Regions from separate parts of the Homo sapiens genome. Here all the other regions are linked to region 2. Evidence: fine-mapped expression QTL. A gene starts in region 2. Each other region holds a variant in brackets. All regions are shown on one strand. Distances are from middle to middle.

Region 1 (5,122 bases), 41 kb after region 2:
GTAATTCCAGCACTTTCAGAGGCCGAGGTGGGCAGATCACCTGAGGTCGGGAGTTTGAGACCAGCCTGGCCAACATGGTGAAACCCCATCTCTACTAAAAATACAAAAATTAACTGGGCATGGTGGCTTATGCTTGTAATCCCAGCTACTTGAGAGGCTGAGGCAGGAGAATTGCTTGAACCTGGGAGGTGGAGGTTGCAGTGAGCTGAGATCGCACCACTGCACTCCAGCTTGGGCAACAGAGCAAGACTTGGTCTCAAAACAAAAAGGAAAAGAAAAATTCCTTGAATTCGTCAAGTTCTTTCCTGTGTCACATTGTCTTCCATGTTTCCTTTATCAGAAATGCAGGCCCCTTATTTCTGATGGCTCCTACTCCAAGTTTTCACATTATGTGGGCCCCATGCATATGTCCTCTAAGCTTGTCTCATCTTTTAGCTTTCTGCTTCAATGTCACTTCCTCATAGAGCCCTTCTCAGATCTTCCAGGCAGAATCAGCCATTCTCTCTGATGCTTCCTTGTTCTTTTTTTTCATAGTGCTTAGCATACTTTATAAGTATATACTTACGTGTTTAAGTTTTGTCTCCTATACTAGACTGTAGGCTCCACAAGAGTACAGGGATTGTGTCTCTTCTGTTCATCATTACATATCCAGTGCTTAGCATAGGATATGCCCTGGGTAATTACTGAGTGGTTGAAAGAATTCTGAAGCTGCCCAGGTGTGGTAGCTCATGCCTGTAATCCCAGCACTTTGGGAGGCTGCGGTGGGAGGCTTGCTTGAGCTCAGGAGTTTAAGACCAGCCTGGGCAACATGGTAGTGAGACCCTGTCTCTCTTTAAAAAAAAAAAAGAAAAAAATTAAAGTTAATTTTGTGGCTTCTCTTTCTCATGAACAATTTATACAACAAATTTTCAGAAAACAACTTGTGTTAGGGTGATGAGATTGTGTTCTTGAATATTTTTACGTTTTGGCATTAAACATTTTCACAGTTTTGACCATCTCCTGTATCCAGTCAGTGTGCTAAGAGTGGTCAAACTGACACTTCCCTGTGTGTGTTTAGGTTGGATCCCAGAGACCGTGGAGGAATGGAAGCTTCTCCTTCATCTCATACAGAGCAAGAGCACGAGGCCAGCCCCCCAGGAGTCACTAAATGGGAGCCTCAGTGATGGGCCTTCCCCCATCAATGTGGAGAATGTGGCACTTCTGTTAGCTAAGGCCATGGGCCCAGATCGGGCTTGGTCACTGCTACAGGAATGTGGTCTGGCCCTTGAGTTGTCAGAGAAGTTTACCAGAACCTGCGATATCCTGAGGATTGCTGAGAAAAGGCAGAGGTAATATCAGTTTGTCCTACCCTCTGCATAGTGCTTGGAGAAGGTAGAAGGCCACAGACTTTCAGATGTAGATGTGGAGATCATTTAGTCCCGACCCATCACTAACATGAGGAGACTGAGACTGATGTGGTAATTAAGGGAAGAGGCTAAAGTAATATTTCATTCACAGCCATGACCAAGATGCTGTTCAGATTAACCTGAATAATCTGATGTGTCCTTGATTCTTTAAAAATATTACTGGTACCAGGCTGGTCGTGGTGGTTCACGCCTGTAATCCTTGCACTTTGTGAGGCCGAGGTGGGCGGATCATGAGGTCAAGAGATTGAGACCATCCTGGCAACATGGTGAAACCCCATCTCTACTAAAAAAAAAAAGTACAAAAATTAGCTGGGTGTGGTGGCACGTGCCTGTAGTCCCAGCTACTTGGGAGGCTGAGGCAGGAGAATCGCTTGAACTCGGAAGGTGGAGGTTGCAGTGAGCCAAGAACATGACACTGTACTCTAGCCTGGTGACAGAGCGAGACTCCATCTCAAAAACAAAAAAATTACTGGTACCTGGCTGGGTACGGTGGCTTATGCCTGTAATCCCAGTACTTGGGGAGGCTGAGGCAGGTGGATAACCTGAGGTCAGGAGTTCGAGACCAGCCTAACCAATATGGTGAAACCCTGTCTCTACTAAAAAAAAAAAAAAAAAATGCAAAAAAATTAACTGGACATGGTGGCAGACACTTGTAATTCCCAGCTACTCGGGAAGCTGAGGCAGGAGAATCGCTTGAACTCAGCAGGCAGAGATTGCAGTGAGCCAAGATCACGCCATTGCACTCCACCCTGGGCAACAAGAGCAAAACTCTGAAAAAAAAAAAAAAAATTACTGGTACCAGATACCTAATGTCTCAGTAATTTTTTTTTGTGGTATAATACACATAAAATTTATCATCTTAACAATTTAAAAATATTCAGCTCAGTGGTATTAAGTTATTCATATTGTTTTGCATCCAGTCTCTAGAACTTTTTCATTTTGCAAAACTGAAACTCCACACCCATTAAACAGCAACTTACTTCCTCTACCTAGCCCCTGGCAACCACAGTTCTACTTTCTGTTTTTATTAATTTTACTATTCTACATACCTCATCTCAGTGGAATTAATACATTTGTCGTTTTGTGACCAGCCTGTTTTCACTGAGCATAGCATCCTAAAGGTTTATCCATGTTGTAGCATGTGTCAGGATTTCCTTTCTACTTAAGGCTGAATAATATTCCGTTGTATATATATGCCACCTTTTGTTTATCCATTCATCTGTTGACAGACACTTGAATTGCTTCCACTTTCTGGCTATTGTGAATAACGCTGCTATGAATATGAGTATACAAATATGTCTTCCAGACACTGCTTTCAGTTCTTTCGGGTATATACCTGAAAGTGGAATTCTGGAATCATATGGTAATTCTATTTTTAATTTTTTGAGGAACCACCATACTGTTCTGTAGAGACTGCACCATTTTACTTTCCTGCCAGCAGTGCACAAGAGTTCCAATTTCTCCATGTGCTAGCCCCACACTTGTCATTTTCTGTTGTTGTTT[T/C]TTGTTAAACAGTAGCTATCCCAGTGGGTGTCAGGTACTATATATCTCATTGTGGTTTTGATTTGCATTTTTCTAATGATTAGAGATGTTGAGCATTTTTTCATATGCTTATTGACCATTTATATAATTGTCTTTGGAGAAATAGCTATTCAAGTCCTTTGCCCATGTTGAATCAGGTTGGGTGTTTTCGTTGTTGTTGCTGTAAGAGTTCTCTGATATTCTGGATATTAACCTCTTATCAGATACATGATTTGCAAATATTTTCTTCCATTCTGTAGGTTGCCTTTTCACTCTGTGCATTGTGTCTTTTAATGCACAGAATCAGTCAACTTTTTGAATCCTCTGAAACTCTGTAGTTTTTAAGTTTTCTGTGAAGAATGAACAATGACAACTAAATTTGCTTGTTTCTTTTCTTTGGGATTTCAGGGCCTTGATACAAAGCATGCTTGAAAAATGCGATCGGTTTCTCTGGTCCCAGCAGGCCTAGTGGGAGAAGATTCAGCAGGATGTCATGACATTTTGAGAAAAACTAAATCATGCTCCTGAACCTTCTGAACGCATTTGTTATTGAAGGAAAGACACCACCCCCAAATCCTGCCATCTTATTGGGGCTACTTTTGTCAGTGTCTGTACCCTTGGCATCGGCATCTGTGACTCTTTATCCATGACCTCAGTGTTTCTTAACCAAAGTTGTACTCAGCATTTCTTAACCAAAGTTGAATTTTGAAAAGAGTCAGTCCTTGTTTGCTGGAATTAGAATGTTAATGTCCTAGTATTATTCCGAACTACAGTATTAACTGCTTGTTGCTAGTGGATTAGACAGATTCTTTTCTTACTGTGGCTTCCATGTTGGGAGCAGAAGCTTTTCATCCTGGTCACATGAAGACAGATGGTATTATTGACTGGAGTTGAATTATTTTTATATCTTGTCTGGCACAATATGGAAATTACTGAAATAAGACGGTGTATAATGGAATTAACACCCAAAATAAGTAGAACACTGAAGATTTGAATTTGATATTTAAGTAAAATGGGACTGGGTGCAGTGGCTCAGGCCTGTAATCCCAACCCTTTGGAAGGTAAAGACGGGAGGATCACTTGAGGCCAGGAGTTCAAGACCAGCCTGGGCAACATAGTGAGAATGCATCTCTACAAAAAATAAAAAAAATTAGCTAGGCATAGTACCTGAGGCCAGGAGGTCCAGGCCGCAATGAGATGTGTTTGTGCCATTGCACACCAGTCTGGGTGACAGAGAAAGACCCTGTCTCAAAAACAAATTAAATAAAATATCTTCATATATAAATTAAGCTAATTAAAAATATTTTTCCCTGTATTTATTTAATATTTTCTAATCTGAACCCATATACAGCTGACTAATTCATTCTTAGAAATGTGTTATCTGTAATCTTTCCTAAACAGAGTAGCCCACAAGAATCATGCACTTTTTAAAATTATTTCTAAGAAGCCATAACAAAGCTGTGTACTAATAAAGACTGCAGCAAGCACTTGTGTTATTTAAATTATGTAAGTAGATTGTCATTTGTCAGGCTCCTGTACATTTACATAGCATGTTATATTAATAATAAATGTAAAATATGACTAAAGTTTTCATTGGAACACAATGTAGACAGGAGGTTTATTATGAGCATTTTGCAGAAAGGTGTGGAGTAAGTAAAGTGTTGGATGCACTGAACAATTCAACTCTTTTTTGCATTTATAACATAACCAGAGAATATGGACACAAATCACTGTTAAACTTACACATTACTCCTAGATATGATGCAACCATATGGGTTAAAGAGATTGTCGGCTGGGCGCGGTGGCTCACGCTTGTAATCTCAGCACTTTGGGAGGCCAAGGCGGGTGGATCACGAGGTCAGGAGATCGAGACCATCCTGGCTAACACGGTGAAACCCCGTCTCTACTAAAAATACAAAAAAATTAGCCTGGCATGATGGCTGGCGCCTGTAGTCCCAGCTACTCGGGAGGCTGAGGCAGGAGAATGGCGTGAACCCGGGAGCCGGAGCTTGCAGTGAGCCAAGATCGTGCCACTGCACTCCAGGTTGGGCGACAGAGTGAGACTCCGTCCCAAAAAAAAAGAGAGATTGTCAGGGAAAGGAGAATTCTTAGAATTCCGGGAAGTATGGAAAACCTTCCCACTAGCATAATTTGCCTTTTGGCCATATTGGATTGTGTTGAAATGTGCATCTATA
Region 2 (5,149 bases):
TGCCACACTGAAGGCAGGAAAGAGAAAGGAAGGGCACAAAGACATCTCTATCAGCAGTATGCATAAGGCAGAGATAAATGGTGGCCAAAATGCTAGGAAAGCTCAAGGTATGCCAGACAACATTCTGATGGTAGGGAATAAAATAGCACAGAGAAGCAGGTTATCAGAGGGCAGGACACATGGTACCAGCAGGGAGAAGTTACAAGCCTTGAGGGCAGTACACACAGGAAGCATTCACAACCCAGGACTGGTGCTGGTCGCTGGCTTCACTACTTTTAACTGATTCTTCTCCCACACTGCACCAAGTTTCCTAGTATTTTTCAAAAGCCCTCTCTGAATTTGCTTTGATTTTTTTTCACATTTGTACTGCAATGTGTATTTTATATCACCTAAGAGAGACTCAAACTTACCAATCTGTTGCACTGCTACAAGTCGGCTGAATGGCCTGGTCAACATGGTGAAACCCCGTCTCTACCAAAAATACAAAAATTAGCCAGGCATGGTGGCGTGCGCCTGTGATCCCAGCCGCTGGGGAGGCTGAGGCAGGAGAAGCCCTTGAACCCGGTAGATGGAGGTTGCAGTGAGCAGAGATCGCGCCATTGCACTCCAGCCTGGGCAACAAGAGCAAAACTCCGTCTCAAAAAAAAAAAAAAATGTCGGCTGAGTGAGGATAGCAGACCATCTCTTTTTTCTCCTTTCTGAATGAGGGACTTAAGCCTGCTAACAGGTACAAAGTTCTCTCCAGAGTTTAGTCCTTCTCTAAGTCCAAGGCCTGCTACTAGAGGTTACCTTCCCTGCGGTTGTGACCTCTCCATCTCAACTGCTCTGGTTTTGTCTTTTAAAAAATCTTAAGGTTGGCAACTTTGGCTTAATTACCTAAGTCCAGTTCAGTGGTTTTCAAACTGTGTTCCAAGGAGTGGCCTCTAGGATAGAAGTTAAGTGGGGTGGTGGGGCCTGGCCCTTTTAAATTTAGTTCCACCAGAGCATGCTGCTTTATATATTGGGTTCCAGATAAAAATTCATGGGGAGAAATTGTTCCACTCCTTTAAAATGTTTGAAAATCACAAGTCTGGATATTGGTTTGTATGGAGTCAATACTCACTGCAAAGCACATTTCATTCAAACCACTCAGTTTTTTTTTTGTTTTTGTTTTTAAGACTGGGTCTTCAAATGGACAAAGGGTGTATTTTTCATATCTTCTTTCCCCATCCCCATTTTACTGATGCTAAAATTGGAGTTTAGGAGTCATTTGGGGCCAGGCACTGTAGCATAATTCTGGCGCTTTGGGAGGTCTAGGCAGGAGAATCGCTTGAGCCCAGGAATTCGAGGTTACAGTGAGCTATTATCACGCCACTGCATTCCAGCCAGGACGACAGAACAAGACTCTGTCTCTTAAAAAAAAATAAGAAAAGTCACCTCCTTATTTAATTTGGCCTTTGAGAACACTGGGGGATTTACAAAATAATTACATATATCCAGGTACTCATGGTCTATTTTTCATCATTACACGACAATCAAATGACCAAAACTAGGAGTGTGTGGACTGGCACGTGTTAAGGTTTTTAAGAGAGGTAAGATTGACAGGTGGAAGCAAAAGGTGTGCAGACAACAAGGTGACAGCTTTTCTCTTACAGAATCCCAGACTCAACAGCACATTTCCTGACGGGAAGGGCTTCTCTGTCTGGGAGAGGCCTCCACTTCATTCTCATAAGCCAAATCTGATCCTGGCTTTGGGTAAACCTGCTCTCAATTTAAGAGCAGGTTTCCTTTAGACAAGTAGATTAGGGGTCGCCTCTTCCTCGCCTCGGGATAAGGGCAAACAAGACGCCAGGCTTGGGCGTTGGGAGGACGGCGACAGCGACGCTGGGAACAGGGGTAGAATCCACGCCGTCCAGCGGCCCCCAGGCCTGTCAGCTCCTCACCCGCCCACCCACCCGCCCGCCTGCATTCTTCGGTCTAAACTTACCAGGTGGAAGCTACAACTCTAGACAGGAAGTAACTAACTGGGTTGGATCCGGTCGAGTTCCGCTGCGCTTCTTAGAGCCGCTGCTGGGAAGAGGCCGAAACCCAGTGGCCGCAGCAGTAGCCACCGCCTCTGTTACTAGGGGGTCTCGCCTCCATCGCTGGCTGCGAGGAGTCTGAGGGCACGTGACCGGAAGTAGCAAGGCGGGCCCTGGGCACGTGACTCAAGAGCGCGGCCGCCATGACACCTTCCGCTAGTTCCCTCCCTCCCCCACGGGTTCCCGCCTGTTTCGTTTCCTCTCTCCGGTCTCGAGCGGCGAAGGGTCCTGGGATCCTGGCTGGCCCAACCATTTGGCCTAGAGCTCCTCCGGTTCCAGTCGGCGCCGTGTCTCCAGCCCGCAACGGCCCTGCGGTCGCAGGCCGTAGAGAGCGTAATCGCGACCGCGGCCTGAGGGGGAGGGACCACGCGGAAGGAGGGGCGTGACTCGTCACGTGATGAGGAAGTGCCGTTAGTAGCGTTGTTTCCAGTCTGCGGCTCTCCTGGATGACGTCAGCAAGGAAGGGGAGGAACGCGAGGGGAGACTGAAGTTCACGTTCCGCTCTTAGTGCGCGGTGAGTTCCCCGGCGCTAAGCCGGGAGACAAGATCCGATCTACTGAGAGCTGCGAGGTACTGCCCTGGATGTGGTGGAGCTGGGCTGGGACCTCCGGGCTGCTGGTCTGTGAGCCTGGCTTTGAAAATTGGTTACTGGGTCTCCTCTCAAGAAATCTCAAGATATTAAAGTTACTGCTGTTAAAAAGGTAGTAGTTCCACTAGGCAAGGAGCTTTTTGTGGGTAGGGATTGTGTTTTGTTCATCCCTGTGTCTCTAGCGGTGTGTTCAGGTCCTGGAACATAGTAGGCACTCAGAATGTTGAATGAATGAATGTATAAATGAGTCAGTCGCCATTTGTCTGAGGCAGAGAGTTGTTTTCTGATCATTTCTTCTTGGATAGAAAGATCCCATTGTGAAAATGAGGCAGTCTGCAACTTCCCCTTCTCATTTCTTCAATTTTTGCTATCTTTCTTACTTCTTTCTCCTCTTCCTCCACGCACCTACTGGGGCAAAAGAGAAACATGTTTGCATTTGATGTGTGAGCAACAAACACTGAACTATTTTACGATAATGGAAAGATGAGATTTGGATTCAGGAGACGCGTATTCTAATCTCAGCTCTACCATTTATGAACTCTGTGATCCTTGGGCAAGCCAGTCTCCCAAAAGTTGTTTCATTTACTTTGGTTAAGCATTTGTCGCCAACTTCTATGTTCTTAGTTTTTGGTAGAGTGCCTTCACAGAAGTAACATTTAAACTCAGCTTTGCAGAAAGGTAGGGTTTTGGTAAATGGGGGAAGATTCCATAAACATCATATATTAAACCATGGAGGCACAGCAAGTTTATGGAATGAAAAAGAAAAAAAGAGTCGAGTCCAATGTAGTTGGAGAATAGAGAGGTTAAGATGGGAAATAAGGCTGGAAAAAGAAGCAGGGAGGAGATAACAGATTTTCAAGAAATAGAGCTGTTGAAGGCTTGTACAATATTATGTATATATTTTTTAAATTTTATTGTGGAAAATTTCAAACGCAGACAAAAGTAGGATAATAAATTGAACCCTCATGTACACTTAACGCAACTTGAACAATTATCAGCATTCTGCTGTTCCTCTTTATACTGTTTGTACATTTCTAGGTACTTTTTATATCCATTGTTGCATTTGATTAATAGCAGCTTTCAATTTGAGCTCAGTTCTACTGTATGTAGCTACTGGCTAAGAAGATTTTATTTATGTAAACAATTTCTTTGGGTTTTAGTTGACCACTTGCTCTGTTGAATCAATGTGTAACATGGCCACTTAAACACAACTAATACTGTTTTTAGGTTGTAATATAGAAACTTAGTGTCTAGATCCAGGAAGTTAGTGTTTCTACTCTATTCTGGGCTCATCTAACTACTTAAGGAGTATTATGCTCAGTTCTAGGCACCTCATTTTTAGGCAAACTACAGTGCCTCTGTAGAAGGTTGACTGGAACAGAGGGTTGGAAAATGTCATGTCAGGAGTGATGAAGAAACTGGGAATGTTAAATTTTTAGAAGACCTGATAATGCTTTTCAAATACAGAAGGATTGTTTTGGAAAGAGACAGCTTGTTCCCTTCAGCTGTAGAAGCTACATACAATTAGGAATAATGGTAGAGCTCTAAGTGATCAGGCTTCAGCATAGTATTAAAAAGAACCTTATAATAGTGAGCCCTTTGGAGGACTGGAATTGGCAGCTTCATGAGAGTGAGTGCTTTCTTTCCATGGCTGAAAATGTTCAGGGATCTAGGGCAAAACTAATTTCTGAATTAGGTGGACATGTTCACTGAATTACCTATGAATCTTTTTCCATCTTGAGAATTCTAGGAAGTAGGGCTCATGTGCGATCTTGAAAGCTGGGTATGTTTGGATAAGAAAATCTGGAAGGGAAGCAGTCATTTCAGGGAGAGTAAACATAAAGTATAAAGTTGAAGTTGGTTTAACACTGTCATTCAGCAGCTTCTCTGAGAATTGGCATTGCTTATGCTGTTTTTATTTTCCATTCTCATTTCTGTTAAATTCTTTTTTTCTTTTCAGTAGAACTTACTAGGTGTGTCCCCCTGCACACCCCCGCATTATATTATAACTTCCAGGACATTCTCTTTTTACCGAGATTAAGGCAAAATGACCTACTCAGAGTTTCTTTGTTTCAAGATCACAAGTAGAAGAGACACTATGATATTATCATTCCTTTCCATCTCTTGGATCCTGTACCATGGTTTTATCTTTTTCTTGAATCTTCAGTCCCTTTCGTTCTAGACTCTACTTTTAGCTACTACCTACAAATCTGTTGAAGAGTCTCCCCAATAATAACGTCAAGAGAGGTTTTCTCCTTTTCCACCAGACTTCTTGAGTAATTGAAATGTTTTATCCTCATTTTCATATCACCCACCCGTTTTCTCAAGTCTTTGTTTTCTAGCATCTAACCACCCACAGCACTTTACAGAAATTGTGTGACCTCCCAACACACAATTCTTCAATTCCTTTCTGTTGCCTGCCAAGTTAAGTTCAGGTTCTTTGGTTTGAAATTCAAAGTGTTTTGTAACTTGGGCCCAAATTAAGATTCCAGCTTTATCT
Region 3 (5,149 bases), 59 kb after region 2:
TAGGTCCAGCACAGTGGCTCACTCCTATAATCCCAATGCTTTTGGAGGCCAAGGCAGGAGGATCACTTGGGGTCAAGAGTTTAAGATCACTCTGTGCAAAACTGTAAGATCTTGTCTCTACGAAATATAAAAATAAATGGACCGGGTGTGGTAGTGTGCACCTGCAGTCCCAGCTACTCAAGAGGCTGAAGCGGAAGGATTGTGGGAGACCCAGGAGGTCAAGGCTGCAGTGAGCTATAATCACGCCACTGCACTCCAGCCTGGTTAACAGAGCAAGACCCTGTGTCTAAAAGAAAACAAAATAAAACTAGCAGCCTACCCCTGCCATGTCTCATGTGTGCCCTGGAAGGCTCCTTCCACCCCTCAGTCTAGATATCCAGAGATTTACCTCCTCAGCACAGAAAAGCCCTGCTCAGCTGGCCTAGTCAATTAGGAAATTAGGAAGGAAGGAAGTGGTCAGTACCAGAGCCCAGCAGGGCTGAGGCCAGGACATGCAGAGAGGCTGGTGGATATAGCAGCAACTGTGGTTTCTTCTTCTCCAGTCCGTTTTCACTCTTTTATTTTTTCTTTCTTTCCTTCCTTCCTTCATTTCTTCCTTCCTCTCTCTTTCTCCTTCCTTCCTTCCTTACTCCCTCTCTGTCTTCCTCCTTCCTTCTTCTCTCTTCCTCCTTCCTTCCTCTCTCTCTTCCTTCCTTCTTTCCCTCCTTTCTTCCTCTTTCCCTCCCTCCCTTCCCTCCCTCCCTCCTTCCTTCCTTCTTTTCTTCCTCCCTTCTTCTCTTCCTCCCTTCCTTCCTCTCTCTTTCTCCTTCCTTCCTCTCTCTTTCTCCTTCCTTCCTTCCTCTCTCTTTCTTTCCTCTTTTCTTTTCTTTCTTTCAGAATGCTATGAATATAGGCCTCAGGATAACTACTTTTTAAAGGAAATGACAATCTTGTTGGGAAAGAGAAAACAGTAAGTCTTAAAAACACTCCTTGGCATACTCCTCACCTGATCCTCCTCTCCTCCCCTCCCCTCCCCTCCCCTCCCCTCCCCTCTCTCCTCCCCTCTCCCCTCCCCTCTCCCTTCCCCTCCCCTCCCCTCCCCTGCCCTCCCCTCCCCTCCTCTCTTCTCCTCTCCTCTCAAGACAGGGTCTTGCTCTGTTGCCTGAGCTGGAGTGCAGTGGTGCAATCATGGCTCACTGCAGCCTCAGCCTCCCAGGTTTAAGTGATCCTTGCATCTCAACCTCCCAAGTAGCTGGGACTGCAGTTGTTTGCCAATATGTTTGAGTAATTTTTAAAATTTTTAGTACAGTGGGAGTTTCACCATGTTGCCCAGGCTGGTCTCAAATTCCTAACCTGCAGTCCTCCTGCCTTGGCCTCCCAAAGTGCTGAGATTATAGGCATGAGCTACCATGCCCAGCCAGAAGTTCATATCTGATTGCTTCTATTTTTCAGTGAAATAGGAAGCAAAGTTGTCAACTGAGAAGAGAATGAACGAGGAGTTGTGGGAAGTTTCAGAAGAGAAGAGAAGTAGAAAGCAGACATCTAGGAAAGGAAGAATGTGACTGAACTTGAGAAAGGTAGTGGATTGTATGGTAGCTCTTGGTCAACGACCATGAATTTAAAGTGAGACTAGTCATAGCAGTCGTGCTTTTTTTCTGATCACATTCAGCTGCCAAGGTTCAGACTTTTAGCAAGTGGCAAATTGAATATCACTGTGCAATAAATGCTTGTTGAGTTGCATGACTGAATACATGCGAAGGTCAAAGGAGGAGGATTTATTTAAAGATGAGGGAGGGTTACAGGGCACAGGGAGAATGTTAACAGAGAGAGTGACTGAGGGTAAAAGATAGGGCATAACATAGACTTCAACAACCAAGGGGCCACAGGGCCACGGGGACAAGGTTGCCCAGAGTGTAGCAGGAGCAGGTCTTCCTCTGAGACAGGAAGGAGAGGAACGATAACAAGGAAGATGCATTTTGAGATGAAGGACAGAGATCCTGAGGGAAACCAGCAGGCCCTTTTCTTTACCAGTCATAGAACTCATCGCTCTCCACCTGTTTGCATTTCTGAGTTTGACCCAGAGTGCACAAAACACAGGGATAGGAACCTTGTCAGGCTTATTGACAGATAACTGTTGTCACTTTAACACCAAACACAGCACCTCACCTGTAGCAGGTTCTTAGTCACTTTTATTGATTGAAGGAGTCAATGCATGAGTGAAGTAGGAGAAGTCATCTCCTATAGATTGACAGGTGGAAGGTTAAGAAGAATGGAAAAGCTTTGGAACAATGATGTCATTTAGAGATGAACATGGACTTTTTTTTTTTATGTTTGCCTCGCACTAATAACTTTTATTTCACTCAAATTAGAGCAGTAATCTTCCATAAATAAGTATATTCCCTGCCCAATAATTTAAGGAAAAATCCACAATGATTAGTAAAGAAAAATATAAGAATTAACAGACCCTTTAAATTTGTTTTAAATATTTGAAGATTTAAAAAGTGTTTAAAGTTTGTAATTCCTAGTAGGAAAACATTATCTGAATGAATACCCTAATGGCAAACCACTGTAAAATGCTTCAGCTGCATTTGGGGGAGAGGGGTAGGGATTATCTTCAAAGCACCCCAGCTCTCTTGATGAGAAGGTCAGAGGTACGTTGGTTTGTATTATTGCGACATCCATAAGGTGATCTAGGTTGCTTTTCCTTCAGCAGGGCTTTATTTATCAGAAGGGCATTATGCTTGACCTCCAAATTTGGCTGACAATTTACTGATGAGATTCATAACCTTTGGGTTGCTCTGGTATTTTGACATATTTGCTGGGTTCTGAGCCACATCCTGGAAGGCCACCATAACTTCTGGATCCTGCATGGCTGCAAGAGCCTCTGGATCACTAAGAATTTCATTGAGTCCAGGCATTCCGGCCATTCCAGGCATGTCCCCTCCCATTCCAGGCATTCCTCCGGGAAAATTACCAGGCATTCC[A/C]CCAGGAAAGCCACCTGGAAAAGGGCCATAGTGAGCTCCTGACTGTCGTCTGGCTTCTTCCTCCCTCTGGGCTCTCTCCTGCTCTTCTTGAGCCTTCTTAACTCGTTCTATTCTTTCTTTGATCTCTCGCTCTTCATGTTTTCGCTCATACTTTCTCCAATGTTCTGCAATTTTCTGTGCCCTAGGTTGAACTTCTTTCAGCATTGCACTAGCATCTTCATCATAATCCAATTTACAGGCAAAGGCAAGATCATGGGCTGCTTCTTCCCAGTGGCCTAGAAGTCTGTGTGCTTTCCCCCGCCACTTGTAAGGCTGAGCTGAATCAGGATTTATTTCAATGGCTCTGTCACAGTCTTGGATGGCAGCATTTGGCTTCTGTAATTTGACGAAGACACTGGCCCTCTTTGCATACAAAATGGCCAAGCGAGGATTCAGCTTGATGGCATCTGTGAATAAGTCAATGGCTTTCTGGAGTTCACCATCATTTAGGACTTCAATAGCAGCCACTTTTTTATCATTTGCCTGATCCATCATCTCCTCCGTTATCTCCACATTTTCATCTCCCATTTCTTGAGGAGCATCAGTGTCTGGTTCAATCACACCTTCTTTATCAATTTCTAGATCACTTTCCTCAGTTGATGGTTCGTCTGCCTTTAAGTCTTCCTCCACCTTCTTACTATCAGGTTTTTCTTCCTTGGTATTTTCTTCTGATTTAGCCTTCTGAGTAGCAGGTGGTACTTTACCTCCCATGCTCTCCACCCACTCTCTCAGGAAGCGCATTTCCTCGGTGTGCAGAACGCTCGGATCCTGCTTACACATTTTCACAAAGGCCCGAAGCTCGTTCACTTTGCAGGGGTCCATGGTAGGGAGGTGGTGGGTGAAGCTGGGGGCTGCGGCCCAGTTCCAGGCCCAGGTGCTGGCTCGGCATGACCGCGCAGAAGGGGGCGGCTGCCGCGAGTGAACATGGACATTGTTAATATGCAATAAAATCTCAGCCTACTTGAAATGTTTACATTAATTGTCAAAAAACATATTCAGAAGGCAAACCCTTATCATCTCTCCGCTGCTCCCAGAGAGATGTTATTAGGCATCACCTTCTGGGTTATGATGGCTTCTTAACTGGCTTCCACATTTCCCCCTTTGCCGCCAACTAGTCTCTTTTCAGTATAGCAGCCAGACTGTTACAACACAAGACAACTTCTATCACTCTCCATTCAAAACTCTCCGGAGGATTCCACTTCCACTCATAGTTGAAGTCAAAGCCCTTATAATGGTTTTCAAACTTTACTCAAACTGTCCTAACTCCTTCCTCTCGTACCTCATCATCCAATTCTCTCCTCCTGCTCATTTTGCTCTGGCCACACTGGTCTCCAAACCCCCAGGCACATCTTACCCTAGGGGCCTCGGATTAGCTGTTCCTTTCCTCTGGAACATTCTTTTCCCAGATATTTGCATATCAGGGCTTTGAGGGGGCCTTGATCCGGGAATGCAGGATACTGGAAGGTTCAACAATACAGTTATTGTCAATAAGAGTATTGGCAGTGAATGTGTTGGAAAGAGGGCCGTAAATGAACTGTGAAAATTTTCCATGAAGATGGGAGAGGACTGGAGAGTTTTGTCAATGAATACAATAAAGAGGTACTTTGTCTCCAAACATCACTAAGCAGATTGTCTACACAGAAGCTTCTAGTGGGTATTTCTAGGCTGGGCACGGTGGCTCACACCTGTAATCCCAACACTTTTGGGGGCGGAGGCGGAGGATGGGTTAAGGTCAGGAGTTTGAGACCAGCCCGAGCAACATAGTGAGACTCCATTTCTACAAAAAATTAACAATTAGCTGGGCATGGTGGCACACTCCTGTTGTCCTCACTACTTGGGAGGCTGAGGCAGGAAGATCACTTGAGCCCAGGAGTTTGAGGTTACAATGAGCTATGATTCCACCATTGCACTCTAGCCTGGCAACAGAGCGAGACTCTTGTCTCAAAAAAAAAAAAAAAATGCAGATTCCTAAGCCATAATCTTGGAGGTCTTGGTCTCAGTTCAGCGAGTTGGGGGTGATCTTCAGGAATCAGTGTTTGAAAATCTTCCTGTTTGGAAATCACTTGTGCAGATAACATTAGTAAGACTGGAGAGAAGGTGGTAATGAATTTATCAGGGACTTCAAAGAGGACACATCACAGAGGTGA
Region 4 (5,148 bases), 42 kb before region 2:
AGGATAACCAGTTTGTAACATGGCCTAAAATAAAATGAACAGTTCTCAGGCAGCCCACCCAAGGAAATTCACACATAATGAGAAACCAGAGATGTGTTAGAGTTAAAAGGGTAAGTATAAAAAGTTTTACTTTTTTTGTGTAATTTTTAATACAAGACATCTAAAGTCTTAAACATTAAGTTGATCCCATCAGGAACAAAATATGGCACGAAGTTCAGAAACAAGAACATCTTTTTTTTTTTTTTTTGCACTTAGGCTTTTCAGTCACTATGCAATGATTATCGATTCGCCAAGGACAGTAACAGTCAAATACTAGAGAAAAGGAGATAGGAGAAACATCTTTTATTTCTTCTAAAGAGGTGAAAATAAGATTTTTTTAATATTTCTCACTCATAAGATTTTTAAACTCTTAAAAATGCAATATCTTCTTTTCAAAGCACATGCCATCTTAAAAAAATCTTAGCAATGTACATTTGCACTCAAAGAAAAACATGCAGCGCCATTGTCTTCTGACAAAATTCTGCATTAAAAAACCCTATGCGACTTTCTGCAAATATATTCCCTCTTTATTATTCAGGGACTCCAAACCACAAACATTCAGTGCAATATTTATCGTTTCTTATTTCCGTAGGAAACACAGAACCAATGATGTCTTCTGACAACTGTTTCCTGATGGTTGAGCAACAGTCTCCCTTTGCTTTATTTTAAAGTACTTTTTTTAACTTGCTGATGTAAGGTATAATTGGAATTCATTAAAACTTGAGGATCCAATGGAGGGTGAAGAATGAAGGATGGAGGAGGAATACTTAAGGTCTACCCTGTGCCATAAACTTAGGAAAAAAATGTACACAGAAAAAAACGACAACCAAAAAACCTCAGATTTTATCAATGCACCCTTTAAAAAGTGTTTTTTTAATTTCTGAAAGCAGCTTAATGTGAATCAAAAGCAGTTCCTGAGCAACTGCAGTAAACAGTCTTTTAAAATATATATGTACATACACATGTACATATATGTGTGTGTGTGTATATATATATATTTGCAACTTAGCTCATTTGGTTCTGTCTTAATTTACCTCCCCAGCATTTAGTCCCTTCTTTCCTTTCAGTCTCCAATGTGCAAGTACAATAGCATCAGCTCTGGGAGTTGGCGTGGAGCAGATGTTTCTTATCACTCCTGTGAGGTCATCTGCTTGTCTGTCAGGCCAGGTTTCCAGAGTTGCTGCAGGTCATAGTTCTCTCAATCTCACAAAACCTGTAAGCATCATGGCCACCTCACGTTTTCTTCATCAGACGCCGTGACTGCCATGTGTGGAGCTTGTTGTAGGCTGTCTGGAGCATCTCTTCTATGTGACTTACCAACTGAAAAACACAGCAAGACACTTAACAACTGGGCAAAAGCAGGGGAAGTTAATCCTTCCAACCCAAATCTGGCACACACTTCAGAGTGTAGTTTCGGAGCTCCTCTGTATTTCCCCAGTCAATGAGGTAATGTGCAAGCCCTCTGAGAAGGTGCTGTCAGACACATTTTGTGTGGAAAGGAAAGACAGAAAGTAGGGGGCAGTGAAAAGGCTGCGGTTGTAATGGCTGTCCTGTCATTAACCAATAATAGGACAATATGAAAGTCACAATTGTGCTCCAGGCCTCAATTCCTTCTGTCAAACGAGGGGTCTGAACTATATCTGTGATTTTCTAGATTTGAATACTGGTCAGCCAACTAAGGCCAGGATGGTAGTATAAACTTTATTTTATTTTATTTTATTTTTTGAGACAGAGTCTTGCTCTGTCACCCAGGCTGGAGTGCTATGGTGTGATTTTGGCTCACTGCAGCCTCCACCTCACAGGTCCAAGCAGTTCTCATGTCTCAGACTCCCGAGTAGCTAGGATTACAACCATGAGCCACCACACCTGGCTAATTTTTGTATTTTTAGTAGAGATGGGATTTCACCATGTTGGCCAGGCTGGTCTTGAACTCCTGGCCTCAAGTGATTCACCCACCTCAGCCTCCCAAAGTGCTGGGATTACAGGCCTGAGCCACCATGCCCGGCCAGGTTTTTTTTTTTTTTCTTTTTTA[A/TA]ATAGTGGAGATGGACTCTTGCTATGCTGCCCAGGCTGGTCTCGAACTCCTGGGCTCAAGCAATCTTCCTGCCTCAGCCTCTCAAAGTGCTGGGATTACAGGCGTGAGCTGCTGTGCCCAGCCCCGTATATACATCTTGGCAGAACACTGGAAAAATGCCTTATTCTCCTGAAGATTCTGATTCAACAGGCCTGGGATGAGACCCAAGAATCTTTGATTTTCAAAAGCTCCTGCAGTTAATTCTGCATAATTTTGTGAAACAGTTTGCTATTTTTAGGGTTTTTCCAACTCCAGCATTTCAGGAGTTCAATACAACTCAGCAGATTACAGAAAACCTAAATGGTTTCAATGCTTCACACAATGTGCTATGTCATGTCTTGGGTCAGGACTATAGATCTTTGAGTAGATTAAGAATTTTGCCCTCATCATGGACATAGCTAGAAGTCAACAGGATCATATGGAATCTTTTTTATTTTTTTGAGACATGGTCTCACTACGTTGCCCAGGCTGGAGTGCAGTGGCTATTCACAGGTGCAATTTTAGTTTACTATAGTCTCAAACTCCTGATTTCAAGTGATCCTCCTGCCTCAGTCTCTTGAGTAGCTGGGACTACATGTGCATACCACCGCATCTGGCTTATACTGACTTTTGAGGTAGAAGTCTCTGGAATATGTTTCCTTGGAGGTGGACAGTGTTTATGTGTTTAGAAGTAAAGTTTTGCCAAGTCTGGGAGGATGGAGATGGAGATCAGGAAGTCCTAAATTCCTTTGGCATGTCAATGTTTAGGTCTGAGGGGTACAGAGTTAAAAAAATTACCCTTACTGCCATACCTGTTTATCATTATGGGGGATAGTAATATTTAGCTCTGTCTGGAAACTATAAAAATTACTTATTCTGTTTGATGGGCAGCAGTATCTATATTATCAATTGGAAGACATGAACACCATATCCTTCTGCAAGGCTATGCATGGCCTCAGCATCCTTTTCTTTTTTTTTTGAGATGGAGTTTCACTCTTGTTGCCTAGGCTAGATGCAATGGCACGATCTCAGCTCACTGCAATCTCCGCCTCCCAGGTTCAAGCAATTCTCCTGTCTCAACTTCCCGAGTAGCTGGGATTAGGGGCACTTGCCACAACGCCCGGCTAATTTTTTGTATTTTTAGTAGAGATGGGGTTTCACTGTGTTGGCCAGGCTGGTCTCGAACTCTTGACCTCAGGTGATCCACCCGCCTCAGCCTCCCAAAGTACTGGGATTACAGGTGTAAGCCACCGCGCCTGGCCCTCAGCATCCTTTCCAACACAGCACTCCAAGCAGTTATAATCAATTGAGAAGGCACATGACCTGAAACCTATCTGCCATCCTTGCCCTGCTGTGAGAAGACACTCCAAGCTTCTATCTGATTATAAGTAATGCTGTTTTGTATTTTAAGAAAACCCACTTAGAATATTTAGGAAATAAATATGAAAAATCTTGCTGATGATTTTTCAGCTTTCAATTGTAAAACTCCCCTTTTATTTATCCTACTTATTGAATACTGAATCTTAAATTTGTAACTAGAGTCATGTGCCACATAATGTGCATATATGATGGCGGTCCCATCAGATTATAATAGAGCTGAGAAATTCCCATCATCTAGTGATGTCGTAACATCATACAGCAGCACATTATTCACTCGTTTGTAGGGATGCTGGTGTAAACGAACCTATTAAGTAGCCAGCTGTATAAAAGTATAGCATGTACAATTATGTATAGGACCTAATACTTGATAATGATAATGAATATGTTACTGGTTTATCTATTTACTGTATTTTAAAATCATTATTTACGGTGTACTCCTACTTATATATATAAAAAAGTTAACTGTAAAATAGCCGTACGCAGGTCCTTCAGGAGGTATTCCAGAAGAAGGTATTGTTTCACAGGAGATGACAGCTCCATGTGCATTACTGCCCCTGAAGACTTTTCAGTGGGACAAGATGTGGAGGTGGAAGACAGTGATAGTGATGATCCTGACTCTGTGTAGGCCTAGGCTAATGTGTGTTTGTGTCTTAGTTTTTAACAAAAGTTTAAAAAGAAAAAAAAAATTAAAAATAGAAAAAAGGCACCAGGCGTGGTGGCTCACGCCTGTAATCCCAGCACTTTGTGAGGCCGAGGTGGGTGGATCACGAGGTCAGGAGTTCGAGACCAACCTGGCCGACACAGTGAAACCCGGTCTCTACTAAAAATACAAAAATTAGCTGGGCGTGGTGGTGGGTGCCTGTAATCCCAGCTACTCGGGAGGCTGAGGCGGGAGAATCGCTTGAACCCAGGAGGCAGAGGTTGCAATGAGCTGTGATCATGCCATTGCACTCCAGCCTGGGCGACAGAACTAGACTCCATCTCAAAAAAAAAAAAAAAAAAAAGAAAAAGAAAAAATATATATATCTATACGGAGAGAGGGAGAGAGAGAGAGAAAGAGAGAGAGAAAGGCTTATAGAATAAGAATACAAAGAAAATACTTTTGTACAGCTATACAATGGGTGTTTTAGGTTAAGTGTTATTCCAAAGAATGAAAAACTTTAAAAATATTTAAAAGTTTATAAGGTAAAAATGTTATAGTAAGCTAAGGCTAATTTATTATTGAAGAAAAAAAGCTATATTGTAAATTTAATGTAGTCTAAGTGTACAGTGTTAGTAAACTCTGCAGTAGTGTACAGTAATGTCCTAGGCCTTCACATTCACTCACTGAGTCACCCAGAGCAACTTCTAGTCCTGCAGTCCTGCAGGCTCTATTTATGGTAAATGCCCTTTACAGGTGGACCACTTTTTATCTTTTATACTGAATTTTTACTGCAACTTTTCTATGTTTAGATACACACATACCATTGTGTTAAAACTGTTTACAGTATTTAGTACAGTACTATGCTGTACAGGTTTGTAGCCTAGGAGCAACAGGCTACACCATATAGCCTAGAAGTATAGTAGGCTATATAGCTAGGTTTTAAGTACACTCTGTGAGGTTCATACAACAAAACTGTCTGTCAATGAATTGTTTAGAACACATCCCTGTGGTTAAGCAACACGTGACTGTACTATTC

Direction of the effects. Alleles are on the strand shown, and positions count from the first base shown. SD is a standard deviation of normalised expression in the study named. Not every link is listed here.
For the expression in CD4 T cells of the gene that starts at base 2,567 in region 2, TA is the low allele of the variant in region 4 and A is the other (moderate effect, 0.75 SD a copy in BLUEPRINT).

What was found. PIP is the estimated chance that this variant, and not a neighbour inherited with it, causes the effect. A credible set is the group of variants that fine-mapping cannot tell apart.
Region 1: its variant is the best candidate, but not a certain one, in a credible set for the expression of HPS5 in whole blood (GTEx, PIP 0.64).
Region 3: its variant is the best candidate, but not a certain one, in a credible set for the expression of HPS5 in whole blood (GTEx, PIP 0.80).
Region 4: its variant is the best candidate, but not a certain one, in a credible set for the expression of HPS5 in CD4 T cells (BLUEPRINT, PIP 0.87).

The regions. Positions count from the first base shown.
Region 1 is chr11:18,278,156-18,283,277 of GRCh38, reverse strand. HPS5 (HPS5 biogenesis of lysosomal organelles complex 2 subunit 2) reads left to right here. Exons shown (of 23, transcript NM_181507.2): 22 at 1,058-1,328; 23 at 3,336-4,602. The coding sequence ends at 3,396. Among named protein-coding and RNA genes, the nearest start is that of SAA1, 14 kb to the right of the region's middle. RefSeq lists enhancers at 526-585, 626-685. The variant T/C (reference allele first, on the strand shown) is at 2,910.
Region 2 is chr11:18,319,558-18,324,706 of GRCh38, reverse strand. It overlaps HPS5 (HPS5 biogenesis of lysosomal organelles complex 2 subunit 2), which reads left to right and starts at 2,567. Exons shown (of 23, transcript NM_181507.2): 1 at 2,567-2,761. GTF2H1 (general transcription factor IIH subunit 1) reads right to left here and starts at 2,140. Exons shown (of 15, transcript NM_005316.4): 1 at 1,967-2,140. RefSeq lists enhancers at 2,163-2,582, 2,593-2,892, 1,783-2,982, 2,120-3,069.
Region 3 is chr11:18,260,657-18,265,805 of GRCh38, reverse strand. It overlaps the pseudogene ST13P5. Among named protein-coding and RNA genes, the nearest start is that of SAA1, 3.0 kb to the left of the region's middle. The variant A/C (reference allele first, on the strand shown) is at 2,964.
Region 4 is chr11:18,361,994-18,367,141 of GRCh38, reverse strand. It overlaps GTF2H1 (general transcription factor IIH subunit 1), which reads right to left. Exons shown (of 15, transcript NM_005316.4): 15 at 97-1,359. The coding sequence ends at 1,273. Among named protein-coding and RNA genes, the nearest start is that of MIR3159, 23 kb to the left of the region's middle. The variant A/TA (reference allele first, on the strand shown) is at 2,072.